Homo sapiens: one gene and its partners. The protein of the gene in region 2 purifies or fractionates together with the protein of the main gene of each other region. This does not show direct contact. Each region holds a gene or a part of one and is shown on either strand. Other genes may lie near its edges.

The links. The genes of interacting proteins can lie anywhere in the genome.
Region 1: the proteins of EIF5 (region 2) and ZNF326 fractionate together in Homo sapiens (co-fractionation; one large-scale study listed by BioGRID). This does not show direct contact.
Region 3: the proteins of EIF5 (region 2) and ISOC1 fractionate together in Homo sapiens (co-fractionation; one large-scale study listed by BioGRID). This does not show direct contact.
Region 4: the proteins of EIF5 (region 2) and SCLY fractionate together in Homo sapiens (co-fractionation; one large-scale study listed by BioGRID). This does not show direct contact.

Annotation. Positions count from the first base shown.
Region 1 is NC_000001.11:90,005,110-90,008,609, reverse strand, and holds part of ZNF326 (DBIRD complex subunit ZNF326), read right to left. Parts: intron 3,478-3,500; coding exon 3,366-3,477; coding exon of another isoform or gene 3,362-3,365; exon of another isoform or gene 2,165-3,361; intron 1,266-2,164; coding exon 860-1,265; intron 1-859. UniProt on the Homo sapiens protein: Core component of the DBIRD complex, a multiprotein complex that acts at the interface between core mRNP particles and RNA polymerase II (RNAPII) and integrates transcript elongation with the regulation of alternative splicing: the DBIRD complex affects local transcript elongation rates and alternative splicing of a large set of exons embedded in (A + T)-rich DNA regions.
Region 2 is NC_000014.9:103,337,237-103,340,736, reverse strand, and holds part of EIF5 (eukaryotic translation initiation factor 5), read right to left. Parts: intron 2,889-3,500; exon of another isoform or gene 2,763-2,888; intron 2,411-2,762; coding exon 2,265-2,410; intron 2,003-2,264; coding exon 1,844-2,002; intron 1,566-1,843; coding exon 1,404-1,565; intron 1,099-1,403; coding exon 934-1,098; intron 311-933; coding exon 176-310; intron 1-175.
Region 3 is NC_000005.10:129,097,749-129,101,248, reverse strand, and holds part of ISOC1 (isochorismatase domain-containing protein 1), read right to left. Parts: exon of another isoform or gene 3,483-3,500; intron 1-3,482.
Region 4 is NC_000002.12:238,059,786-238,063,800, reverse strand, and holds the start of SCLY (selenocysteine lyase), read right to left. Parts: upstream 2,801-4,015; 5' UTR 2,747-2,800; coding exon 2,658-2,746; intron 1-2,657. UniProt on the Homo sapiens protein: Catalyzes the decomposition of L-selenocysteine to L-alanine and elemental selenium.

The DNA of each region.
Region 1 (3,500 bases), on a different chromosome or scaffold from region 2:
ATCAAACTATATAATAACCCCACAATCTGCATACACTTACTAGGTAAATTTTCATGTCAATCAAGTGACCTAAGAACATAAAGCATAATGTTTACACTATGTACCCTAAACTTAAACAACTGTGGACTAGTATATTTACTCATTTAAGCAATAATTTACAAAATATTACTTCCTAAGAAGAAACCATAAACATATCTGTACAGGTGGAAATTATTTCTCAAGAGTAAAACTAGTAACACGAGGGAAAATAAAACAACCAGCAACTGGACATATTGTAAGCGTGAGTTAGCAAAATTACACTGACCACAAATCATTGTACAATCTATTATACACATCAACTTCTTCACCACATAAACATGGCTAAGCTATCCTGATCTATCATCAACTTTTAGTCTCCTGTGTTTAATGTGAAACATGGAGCTTTGAAGAAATTCTACTTGCTAGAGTTTAGCCACAAAGTATAAACATTTTATCATACATTGCACCTTTAACCTACTCAAAAACTCAAAAAGGGTTCAGTGACCTTTCACAATAATCCACAAACTATTCCACCAGCAAAACTGCTAGTGTTTACAAGGAAAATGCAACTCCTTTTAACCCCTTTTAGACCAAACCAGTAGCCTCACCTTTTTAATAAAGGGAGATTTGGCACAACTTTATGATCATCTCAAACTGCCACTTATTTTCTGAGGTGCTAGAAAAACTTTTACAGTCAACCTAAAAATTATGTTTATGACTCAGCTTTTGCTTCAAAATACACCGGGATGAACAGTGTTTATTCTAGTTGAAAACGATGGTCTTGAAAGGGTTTAAAAGAGTGACTAGTGAAAAGAATCTGAAAAGATTCTGTTGTACTTACTCCTCGGCCTCGGCCTCTGCCTGTTGATGGTCCTCCAAAAGCATCATAGTTTCTGCTTCCAAACGTACTTTCAGGATAAGCAGGCGTTCCTCTCCCCCGAGAGCCTACAGGTGCAGGCTTCATATGGGGTGAAGAAAAACTGCTGTAGGAAGAGTAATTCTCTCTTCCTCTGTCCTCCATAAACCCAGGCCTCAATTTTGAACGGGAGTAAGGTGCTTCCCAGCTAGACCCGCCCTGGTTTCTACCTCCGAAAGAGTCAAGGCTATTCCGGTAGGAGCTCTCAAATCGACCACCATAACTACCTCCGAAGCGGCTTTGTTCGGGTTCATTAAAACCATAGCCAGATCTGTACAGATCTCGCCCACCCAGAGAAGACCTGGAGTCGTAAGACTCATAAGGTCCAAACCTGGAAAAGTTGCACAGTGAGGGAAAAAACAAAAGTAAGCTTACTAATGTTAGACAATTCAAAAGACAAATTATCAGATGACATTTATCAACTAAAATTCATTTATACCATACTGGTTTGCACAGTTCTACTTTTGTTCACATTTGATTAGGGCTGGGCAGTTCAACGTGAGACCAGATAGAAAGCTATCTGAGTCAGATTATAAATATGAATTGAGTTTAGTAAAACTTAGCTTTAAAATCTGCTTCTTAGCAGCTTTTCTATTTTATGAAGAAGAAAAGATTTGTCTGTCATTATTTAAGCCCAGCCCTAGTCTTGGAAAAGGTCATTTGCTAAAGTTCACAAACTATTCAAACTTTTTTGAATCTATCCCTAATATTAAAAATTACAAAACATTTACAATATTTTGGCTTTCAATAGGGACACAAATTGAAGTCTACTTAGATGTAGGTTATTTGTGACACAGAGAGATCCTTTTGCACTCCCAATAATCTATATCACAAACTGCTTCATTGTGTCTGTAGGAGTCAAAATTTGGGGAATTATCTCTGGTTATAAAAATTTAACAATCTGCCAAACTTCAGCCAAGGTCAATTAATCAATCCTCAATCACTTTTTACTTGTAGACTAGAAAATCTAACAAATCTAGAAGGATAAACAGATAAAACATAAAAGATCACCAACATATACCCTCTGCATATGAATTTTCAAGGCAGATGAGAAAGAATACATCTTATAATATATTCAATTATTTGCAAAATTATTTCCTTCAGGAAATTATCACATAAAACTACCCTAAAAAAGGGAGCACACAGTCTCCTCGAGGTTTTAAGAGAGTTAACAGAAGAAATAAATCATCTTCCTTCTCACAAACCCAAAGCATGGATTACAAAAGTTGCTTGATATCTTACAACACAATTTTATAAAGGCCCACAATTACACATGAGATAAAACAATAACATCTACGGATATAGCTTATGCACATTACATTCACAATATAAAAGGGCAATAACTGACATATTAAAACATTAAGTGTTACATTACTTCAATTATTTACAGATCACTAAATAGATTTACTTCTGAATCCTAGTAACCATATAAAAATTATTCCTATTTCCAACTACATTTTTCAAAACATCTATCACATAAGCAAAATAGTTGCAACTGTTCACTTTCTTAATTTTTCTTTACTATAAACCATAGTGGTACACTGGAAGCAGAAAGAAGGAAAGTAAGCATCATTCAGTCCATCATTAAGGAATCCGGATCCTTCAATTTATGCAGAAGGATGACTGTTTCACATGTCTACTAACTAGTTTTACTTATATTCAGCAGGAACCTTTGTGCCTCAAAAAGTAGACACCCCTTCTCCTGAAATATGGTCAACCTTAAAGCTTGTAGTTGTTTAAGTAGGTTTAAGCTTTATACAGTAGTAACAGGAAAATATAAATACAATCTCGACTAGTCAAAGGTATAGTATTCATGGCTTTAATACAATGCTTCTAGCCTAGAGCACAAGTGCTTTGGTGTAAGTAGTACCTGTCAATAAATAACCTGAACATAATTTTAAAAATATTTTTATTATTGCAATATGCTCTTCCTTTAAAATTAGAATTAAAGGAATATGTCCTGAATGTTTCTTGGAAAGTAAATGTTAGACTGGTTCAGTAAAATCCATTCTAGTTAGACTGCTTTGCTAATTTACATAGCACCCCACATTAGAAAAGATTTTTTTTAATTATTAAGAAAAAGCTTCATAAATAATATTTTCAATAACATTTTTATATCATTTTTCAGGATACTTTGATTGACAAGAAGTTAAAAGTAAAAGAATTTTTTAAAAGTTCACTGCTAAAAAGTGTATCTTACTCTATTATATTGACATGATATAGTTATCTGGTGTTTTCCTAAAATAACGTCTGCCAGTAATACTGATTTAAATTTTATACCCATTAATTAACACCTTTAAATATTTAAGGTGATGATTCAATAGCAAACAGTGAAGTTCAAGTATCATAACATGCCTAAAGAGTACTTAAAATAATATATCCAAAATCTTATAGTTGTCTAATTATTTGGCCAAATGATTAAGCAATTTACCTGCTACCCCCACCACCACCACTGTGATTGTCCATGCCATATGACTGGTTTAGGTAGGAATCCATGGATCTCTGACCCCCATAGGATCCATGGCCATAGTCACGATCCATCCCTATAAGAGTTTAAAAAGAAAAA
Region 2 (3,500 bases):
TTCCATCACCCTTTCTATTATTTTCCAAATTATTGAGAGGCTGTATTTTACTGCATCTTAAATTCTAAACCTGAAATTACCCCAAACTGCCATTATATCACTCCTCACAAACCTTTTTAAATCTCAAACACCCATGCCAGCACTGTATCCAATACCCTCCTCCCCCAATGTTTACCTCAATGTTCTCATCTTCATCTTCTTCTTCGCCACCAGAAGATTCTTCCTCTGCCTCCTTCAACCATTTTATAAATGGTTCTGCTTTGACACGAATCTCTTTGGCAAGTTCTTTGGAGACATATTTCTTAGAGGCCTAAAAAATGTGAGTACAAGTCTCTTAGTTGAGGAATTTTAACAACTTTTGATTATTTATACAATCCCCCTTACTGAGCTGAGGGGACTGGGTCCTAACAAGTCTGAATCCTCAAACAGAATCAATGTACTCAGTGAACACGTTAGTCTCAGCAGTCTGTTATGACTACAAATCTGACATGATGCGAATCACAATCTACAGCACAGGCACTGAACTTTAGCTATAGATATTAAGACATTTTTTCTTCATCTCAAAGCCGTCTCAATACTTGTGAACGGCTGGGCGCAGGAGCTCACACCTGTAACCTCAGCACTTTGGGAGGCCAGTGGATCACCTGAGGTCAGGTGTTCGAGACCAACCTGGCCAACATGGTAAAACCCCATCTACTAAAAATACAAAAATTAGCTGGGCATGATCGCAGGTGCCTGTAATCCCAGCTACTTGGGAGGCTGAGGCAGGAGAATCACTTGAAGCCGGGACGTGGAGGTTTCAGGGAGCTGAGATCATACCACTGTACTCCTGCCTGGACAACAGAATGAGACTCCGTCTCCAAAAACAATCAACCAAACAAAAAAACCCCCCAAAACCTGTGAACTTTAAGAGCCCACCTATGTATTCCCCACCTTTTCCGACCAGCTGATGATGACCTCTTCTTCTAAAAGGTCTGCATCGTACATCTCCTTCAAGATATGTGGAATCTTGGAGATAAGCTGAGCTTGATGCATTGCTACCACACACTCCAAACCATGAAGAAGGTACCGTTGGGCTTTTTTGTTGTTGTGACAAAACTGCAAATAGACACCTTGGTGTTAACAATCTTTTTTATGTGTTCTAAGTTGACAACTCTATTACCCAAATAAGAGTGTCTGCAAGTGCATGGCCCATACCATAGTTGTTCAAAAAGGTCAATGCATAAACATCCCTGTTACTTTGTAAGGGCCTAGGTATGGCACTTTCAGATACTCAGAGGCTTGTAAGGTGGGTCAATTTCCCCACTTTCAAGCATGACAGGACAAGCAAAAGTGGTTAATATGACCATCTCGAAAGCCACACAACTGTAATCTCATTTATGAATCCAGAGCACTTTGCTTACTCGTAGGAAATGGCGCCTGTATTTCTTAATCTGTTCTCTAATCTTCTCATTAAAAAGAACTTCAGTTAGAACAAGAGGGCCCATGGCTTTTACATCCAGTCTTTCTGCTTCAGCAACGATTTCTTTGTCAGATGAATCAATAACACCCTCTTCTTTCTTTTTCTGCAAAGAAAAGGAAAACAATTCAGTGCAATGGAGGCACACTTTGCCAGGCTCAAGACACCAGCCAGTCCCTGCTCTGATGAACATATTTTTCCTGCCTAATTTGGCAGTTGTGACACATAGTGCCTGGAATCACGCGCAAAAAATATTTAAATGAACAAGAGTTCTAAAAAGTCGTGCATTAGAGTAATCCTAATTACACTGCTAAAGTATCATATATCTAAAGGCACAAACAAGGCTGGGTTGAAGCTGATTTACAGACCAAGCAAATGTTTTACCTTAACAAAATCAAAGAGGATATTGACCCTCTCCTCAATTGTTCTTTCCAAATCATCACTGAGTGTCAGAACTTTTGCATGGTCACTGATTTCATCCATTCGACGCCTTTGAGCTTCCTCAGTTGTATCTTCTCCCCAGTCATCATCCTCCTCTTCTTCCTGTTTATGAAAACAGAGCTACTTGATCAAAGGCCTTAAAAACAACAACAAAAAGGTTCAGATTTTGCCAAGTTAATGGCATCAAGTCCATCTCCATCCAAAATTGGGTTCACCTTAATTCAAACAACAAACAGTACTTGGAATCCACAATATTAGTGTATTACACACTGAAGGCTAGTTTCAACATTTCCACCCACCTCAACCAAATGCCATATACTTTACACAACTTTAGTGCCCACTAGGCCATCAACCCTGCACTCACCATTGTATGTGGAGGAGGATTAATTTCATTTGGTGGTGGTGGTGGTGGTGGTGTCTCACTGCTGGATACGGAGCCATTTTCCTTGTCTTTGCCCTTTCTGTTTTTCTTTTCTTTTTCTTTCTTTCCTGTACCACTGTCACTATTCTCTACAGAAAAAAAGGGAAATAAAAATTTAACCCCATAACTTACATTACCTCATTGCCCATCATTAACGTTTAAAACCCTGCCCTTATTTTCCTATGGATCCCCTCAGAAAAACCACACAGCACACACAATGCTACCTAAGAGGCTTCACAGATCAAATTCATCATGTATTTCATACGTAAGAATGTTAGTCTAAGAATGGAGTGACACAAAATATTAGGGGTATTGTAACTGCTAAGAAAGAGTAAGATGAAGTGATGATGCCTCCACTAGGGAGAGGTGGCCCTAAGGATCCCTGTCATCCCTCATGAACAAAGTCATTAACTCAACCCAGCTTTAGCCAACAGGTGGAACACTGTTTAAGTCTATATAACGGCTTGTCTCATGGGAGAGAGAACACCGGAATAGGTTAGACTTTCTTGCTATAGCAAGCTCAAATTGTGTCAGACAGTTTTGATCATCTGCCACAGAGTGTTGCTTGCAATATTCAAGTTTAATGAAGGGGGCCCTCTTTACCAAACAATGCCAGTAAAAGAAACTTTGCTGGGTTTCCAGCAGAATTTTAGTCATTACTTCATCTACCCTCAGATAATGTCTTAATTGATATGGCACAGTTTAATTGGCAGCCTATTTTTCACCTTTAATGGTAATTAACAATACACTTTTGAAAGATGTCTTAGATTTGATAAAATATAGTACAAGGACTAAAAGGTTCCTTATATTGTTTTTTTGAGACAGAGTCGCTGTTGCCCAAGCTGGAGTGCAGTGGCACGATCTCAGCTCAGTGCAACCTCTGCCTCCAAGGTTCAAGCGACGCTCATGCCTCAGCTACCGGAGTAGCTGGGATTACAGGAGCACACCACCATGCTAAGCTAGTTTTTGTGTTTTTAGTAGACGGGTTTCACTATGTTGGCCAGGCTGGTCTTGAACTCCTGGCCTCAAGTGATGTGCCCGCCCTGGCCTCCCAAAATGCGGGGAATACAAGCATGAGCCACCGTGCCCAGTCTCCCTTACATTCCTATTACAAAAAAACCTTCTATTTTGTTCCCAACAGTTAGTAACTTATCTTAGGATCTTAGGAGTTCATCATGG
Region 3 (3,500 bases), on a different chromosome or scaffold from region 2:
GCTGGGATTACAGGTGTGAACCACTACACCCAACCCAACCATATATATATATATATTTTTTTTTTTTTTTTTTTTTTTTTTTTTTTTGATTAGCTGAGCTTGGTGGCCCAGCTCCTCAGGAGGCTGAGGTGGGAAGATCCTCTGAGAACGGGAGGTCGAGGCTACAGTCCAGCCTGGGCAACAGAGCAAGACCCTGTCTCACAAACAAACAAACAAACAAACAAACAAAAACAATAGGGAATCTGGGTACAGGAATATAGGAACTCTCTGTACTATCTTTACAACTTTATTGTAAATCTAAAGCTATTCTAAAATAAAAAGTTAGTTTTTTTTTTTTAATGGCCTCCCTATGCTATGATATTTGGGGGAATAACGTCTATACCTTACAAACAGAAAGGAACTTTTGTGGCTACCAAAAACATACTGAAAAACTTTAATCATGTCCAACCAATCCTCCCAAATCCTCACCCCAAATCCACATGAATTCCAACAGGCTGTTAAAATCATACAACTCTCTAAATTTCGGAAATTTCTTACTTTGACTCATGAAGTTCTCTTAAACCAAAATCTTTAAGGTAATTAAAAAATATCGCCAGTAGCCAAACATTTACATGTTGCAACTGTAAGACAGCCAGTCCTGCCTCAGCAAATTAAAAGTGGACTGGACCAAATGTCACCAGGAGTAAAAGCATAGCAATTACAGATCTATGCATATTTAAGGAATATAAACAAATCACATATAAATATATGTATCCACACACCTTCGTATATCTATATGCCTACACATAGTCCTACACACACATTTGCACATGATACATATACAAATATATATATATTTAAATATAAAAAGTTGATCATAGCCAATGGCTTCCTCAAGCAAGAGTTTAAGAGATCAGATTCAAGTATAAATATTTTGTCTACTTTCTTAAGAATTGTCATAGCTGGGATTTGACCTTAGATTTCATACTCAAAAGACTTTTCACATCACCCAGCCCATAGCAAATTACTATAGGGATTTGGAATAATTAAAATTTGAAACTGTAAATGCGATGTTTAAAAAATTTGGTAGTCAATTAGAGTCACAAAATAGGCATGATCTGTTTGGGAGAAAGTCTGGAAGGGGACCTGGGGCATCGTTATTTCACTCCCAAGTGTTTCTGAGGAAATCCGATGACCACAGCTATAGTAAGGCCTGGCTCCAATGTCAACTCACTTACAACAGAGGTCTGTGATGTGACTCCCCCAGGTTACAAAGATCCCCTTTATAGCACAAGCCTCAGTAGGCATTAGAATCTGAGTGCAAATCTCAATTTCACTAATTTCGATTACATGAACTTAGGTAAATATCTCCATATGCAATTTCCTTATCTGTAACACAGCAAGAAAAATAGTATCTACATCATAGGGGTATTTCAAGGATTAAATGGGCTTCATATAATCAATCAATAAATGTATTAGGCTATTCTGATGTCCCTCATATATTAAACACTACACTCTAAAACTTAGCATATGTTAAAAAACTTACCCTCTAATGAGGATAAATATTTACAATTAAGATCCCTTTAGAAACCTATAAATATATTTATAGGAATGCTAACATTGCATAACTTGTTATGTTAACATAATATGCAGAATAAGGAAAGTGAATCATAAAGTGATTTATAAAGTAGATTTCCAGATGTTACCAAGACCTTACCAAATCACTAAGACAAGATTGTTCCTGGAAAAACAGATCAGGGACTTTTTAATTTAGGCTGTGAAATAATACTTATTGGCTCTTATTTTTACAACATATTCACCTATTGTGAACATTGATGTCACTGGCATAAGGTTACAACCCTAGCTTATCAGTTAAGGTATGAGTTTTCTAAATCCCCAAGGGACGCCAGCTGTCTCCACCCACCCCAGGGGTGAGGACTGAAGGATTTCTTAAGACTGTGCCTCAGACTGGGGTGAAGGTGAAGCTAGACAAGCCCAGGACCACAATGACATTTGAATCTACATTGGGATTCCCTTGGTTAGCTAAATGCAAGAAAAAAAATTCAAAATTCAGATCATAGCTCCTACTCTCAAACACAGTTTATTTATAGGTAGCTCTAATGTATTCAGAAGGAGCAAAAAAGGATACAATGCTTTAGGTATTATTCTGGAATGTTAATTTTTTTTTAAGTGACACACATCAAACCAATGGGGTAGAGACAATACAACCACCTCAGGATCCAGCTGTCTCCTCTCTGAGCATTAGCTCATCTACCCCCTCTTCCTGCCACGCTCCTGAGGCAAAGGTTTTGTAATCAAAAACCACTACCTTCAAACTATCAAGCCAAAGGCGAACAAGGTTCCTTTCCTCCTGCCTTCCCTCCCTTCCCACCATGAACCTGTCAGTCTCTTCTAGCTATAAAATGTTCATGCCCCTGTTTAAAATAATAATAATAGTAATAAACTTCCAAGAAAATGAAAGCTGGAGCAAAATGCCCTGCCAGTTAACCATCTTGGGAAAAGGTCAAAATAACCTTCCCTGGAACGCCCTTATCTTCTGGCCACAGAAAGCTGCCAAAGCCTTCCCTGCTATGTACAGAAGTAAAATCCCCTCACTGGCATCCTTCTTACACTGTCCATTTCCTCCTCTCTTCTCTGCAGGCTCTGTCTTTCCTGGCCACAGGCTGGAAAATGCACTGGTGGTAGCATGATACAACATTTATGTAAATTTCCATAGTTAAATGTTTCCTTTACCTAAAACTTACAAAATACCTTTTGAAAAATTAAAACTTTTAAGTCATAAAAATGACGTAAATCCCCACTACATAATCCTCTCATTTATATTCTTTCCCGTGTCTCAAAATTCATCAGATCTCAAGCATTTGGCAAAGCTGCAGACATACAAACCAAGCATGAAACATGAGCTATGCCTTCATCTACCTGAGCTGTCGGCAGACATTGTTACTTTGACAGAATATTTAAGAAAAGAAGTCACCAAAAACTTACCACAGCCTAATACTGGCAATGGGGGGTCTTAAAGATCAGTTCTCATAGAACCACTAACAAGCACGGGTGCAGTGTGGCAAAGGCAGCCACTGTGTTTCACAAGGTCATCAGCCACAGCTGTCAGAATAAGCACGAAGGCAACTCATACCACGGCGCAAATGAAGAATACATTCTAGACTAACAGTACGTGAGCCAGGGCCACAGAGGCTCCAGGGCCCAAGTGTGGAGAAATAATAAATCACTATTTACGCAATGAACTACATGTGGCCAAACTTGTGCTCTTTGTCCCTGCCTTCAAGAAGGGGCCAACCATCCCCAGTAACATGGACTCACCGATAGGCCACCTTGAGTCTTCCTAAGTGACAAGCATTTATTCCAAAGAACAAGGAGCAGCACCAAGACAAATGAACAAACAAGAGCTCAAGTTTGTGACTTGTTTTCCAGACTGCTCAATTCTCATTAAACATGCAAGCAGTAGTGCTGTGTTCGGCTGTAAGTGACGCTCTGCATATGCC
Region 4 (4,015 bases), on a different chromosome or scaffold from region 2:
GCTGCACATTCCCCAAGGGAACTTTCCTGTCTGCTGTTTTAACTTCATCAGAGGTTCGCCTTATTTCCCCACACTCATTTTTGCGATGGCCTGTGGGGCTCCTAGTGACCTGGGCTTCTCCCTGGGGCAGGTGAACTTTGGCCCCAGACCTTGCACTTTCAGTTTCTTTGCCCAGAAAGACTACATGCCCTGCCCCCACCTTACTTTTTTAGGTCTTTGTTCCAACTTAGTCCTCTTGTGAGACCCCCTGCCCTGCAGCTCTGCTTAAAACTACAGCTGGCTGGGCGCGGTGGCTCACGCCTATAATCCCAGCACTTTGGGAGGTCAAGGCAGGTGGATCACTTGAGGTTAGGAGTTTGAGACCAGCCTGGCCAACATGGTGAAACTCCATCTCTACTAAAAATGCAAACATTAGCCCTACTAGGGAGGCTGGGGCAGAAGAATTGCTTGAACCCAGGAGGCAGAGGTTGCTGTGAGCCGAGATCATATCACTGCACTCTAGCCTGGGCAACAGAGTGAGAGTCCGTCTCAAAAAAAAAAAAAACAACAACAAAAAAAACAAACCCACAAAACTGCAGCCACCTATGTCCCTACCTCCCCAGCCTCCAGGTCCCCTTCCCGCCTTCCTTTCTGGGCAGCATCATCATCTGACATACCAGACTTGTTCCCTTACTGTCTACCTTAATAGAGTAACAGAAGTATGGCTCCATGGGCATGGGGGCTCTGTTTTTCTCACTGCCCTGTCACCAATGTTGAAGCCCATGGTTGCCACACAACAGGGGCCTGATTTTTATAAGATGACAAAATAAATGCCACAGAAAGTACAAATTCCCTGAAAGATCCCTCACTAAGTAAAATTTATCTGTATATCTTTTTACTAATATCCAAAACCTTCGAAAGCCTTTAGAAAAATGTGTAGTAGTAGTCCTGCCTGATATTAATTTATCTAGTTTTTAAATAAACAGTGCTTACACCAATCCACATGAAAACCCAGATACAATGACTAACTGTGGCTGTTAAGCCACTGAGTGTGGACAGAATGTGCATTAGTTGAAATGAAGCATCTTTTCTGTTCAAAATCACTCAACAGGCTGTGCCCTGTGGCTCACGCCTGTAATCCCGGCACTTTGGGAGGCCAAGGCGGGCAGATCACCTGAGGTCAGGAGTTCAAGGTCAGCCTGGCCAACACGGCGAAACCCCATCTCTACTAAAAATACAATAAAATTAGCTGGACGTGGTGGCACGTGCCTGTAATCCCAGCTACTTGGGAGGCTGAGACAGGAGAATCGTTTGAACCCGGGCAGTGGATGTTGCAGTGAGCCAAGACTGCACCACTGCACTCCAGCCTGGGTGACAGAGTGAGACTCCATCTCAATTAAAAAAAAAAAAAAAAATCACTCAATAGGTACAAGGCTTTGACAAGTTTGACTCGCCATCCTTTACCACTCTGGTACTAGTATTAATAGTCCTAGGAATCCCCCAGCCCGGCTTGACTTTGCATGTGCCCTTATATCTGTTTTTCTTTCCTATAAATAAGCATCCAAAGTACCTTAGGCTAGCTAGTGTTTGTTGAGCGACTGTAGCTCTTCAATCTGCTGCTGGGCTGAACAAATCTATTTTGTTCAGATTAATACTTTACACATTCCTTTGCTTCATTATTTGCTGCTTCCTTAAAATGCTATCAGTATTGGATGAGCAGGCTCAACTTTGTTAGCTTCATAACCAAAAAATAAAAAATCTTGGGAATCTCGCTCCACTGATTCCCTAGGGGATATTTTCCCAGATCCCTTCACTTTGTTCCAACCAAGGTAGAATGCCAAATGTGTGTGCTTTAGGCCTGGACCCCCTCATATTCTAAGCATGGGTAGCGAATGAGCTCACAAAAAGGAAAAAGAGGGGTCTGGAAAGAAGACACACAAACCAGAAAATGCATACCCCTGCCTCCTGCTCTTCTCGGACTTAACTAGTATGGATACCACGTGCTTCGGGTCTCCGCGCTTCTCAGCGGTGGCCATCCCGTTTCCTGCAGCTGGGCCAGCAGTCTGGGAGAACCCTTGATTCCCTTTCACCTGCCCCAGTGCACCAGCTTCCTACCAACGCATCCGTTTCTGGGCGCACACCACATCTCTCTCCTAGGTTGTTACAAGATCCCCAACTGGCTTCCCGGCTTCCTCTCGTCCCATGCCTACCCGCGCCCCTACTTTCTAGGAAGCAGCCAGAAGGACTCCTTCAAAACACTTAAATTGCATCGCCCCGTGATCAACTTCCGAGGCCCCATAAGGCTCCGAATGAACCCCAAAGTTCTTCCCGGGCTCAGGGGCTCTGCCGGTTCACCTCCGGCAAGTCCCCTGCCCTTCGCATCTGCTGTGCCCTCTTCCTGGCAGGCTCTGCTTCCCCAGAACCTGCAAACCTCACCCCTGGAAGTCACTCGGGTTTCGGCCCCAAAGTCACCTCTCCGTGGGCCCTTGCGGGGCCACAGCTCGCACCCGCTCCTCCTTGAAGCTCGCATCCCTGACTTAGGCCGACCTCGCGGACATCCCCGCGCGGGACGCCCCACGCGAGAGCGGCCACAGGCCGGGAGCCCCCTTCGTCCTCCCGCGCGGGACAATCGGCGACAGGCGCCGGCCGCTCCCCAGCCCTGCCCTAAAGGCGCGCACCTCTCCGGCGAGTTGTGTTTCCCGCAGCCGCTGGGCTGACTCGCCGCGGGTGCCGGCGCATCCCTCCCCGGCGCCACGGCCGCCTCCATCCCCGCCCCACTGCTGCCGGGCATCCAGCCTCCTTCCCGCGGAGCGCTACGGGCCCAGAGCGCCGGGGAGGAGGCGGGGCCGCGACGCCCGGGCGCGTCCGGATTGGCTGAGCGAAGCACCCCAGCCAATCCACCCGCTTCAGAGGGCCGCCGAGCCCCCAGCGGGGAGGCGAGGCTGCGCTGGGTCAGGTGACGGGTGGGGGCGGGGCTTAGCGCGTCACAGAGCTTCCCGGGAACCGGGCGCTAGAAGCCGCGTCTCCTGGGCCGGCGGATCCCCGCACTTTCACTTCCGGGGGAGCCCCGTGACCTTTGCTGTCTGCGGCAGGGCCGCCATCGGGCCGCGGCCGGTTAGTCGGCGTAAGAGCAGGCGGGGCCCGAGCTGGACCTGAGGAGCAGAGGCGGCTGGGCAGTCCTGCGGGTGCCTCCCTCTAGCCGCATGAGCGCGGGACCGTGCACTCCGGGAGAGCCGGGGCCGCGCGGCCTTGTTCCCCGCGAACCCTCGAGGGGAAGTGCCGGGGCCGCGGCAGCAGGGCCAGGGCCCCGGGGGTCTCCCGCAGGCCACCCTGGACAGTGATGAGCAGGTCCGCTGGACCTGCGCGTCCGTTAGTCGGAGCGGCTCCATAGGGGACCTGGATGGCGTGAAGTTAAGAGTCACGCATCGAGGATGGACTTGAGGGGATCTGGAGTAGAGGATGGGAGGGCATTGAGAAAATAGGGCCAGAGATGAGGGACTCTAAGTGGGCGTGGAAACGCAGGAAAGATTAATTCAAGATCTGTTTAGGCCGTTAAATAGGAATTGGGGCATGAGGGACAGGAAGGAAGCAAGGATTAGACAAGTGACTGGGAAGATGTTAGTGCCTTTATCTGGGTAAGAGGGAAGACGGGAGGGGGAAAGATGATGGGTTTAGCTTTGGACATGTTGAGTTGTCTGTGAGACAGTCACAAGTGTAAACATCCACCAATGGTTGGTGTCCCGCCAACCATTAAGAAAAGTCAGTTGAGAAAGTGGTAGAAATGAGCAAAAATCCTCACGAAGCCATCCTACCGTCACTTTTTTTGTTGTTTTTTGTTTTTTTGGCATAATAGTGTCTACCTTTAATTGAGCCTTGAACTATGCCAGGCAGTGTTCTAGGTATTTTTCGTGTGTTCACTAATTTAATCTTGATGATTAACCCAGTCTGGTAGGTATTTATGTATGAGGAATCCAAGATACAGAAAGGCATCTTGCCCAAGTTCACACGAGTAGTGGCTGGAGCCAAAATTCGGTTT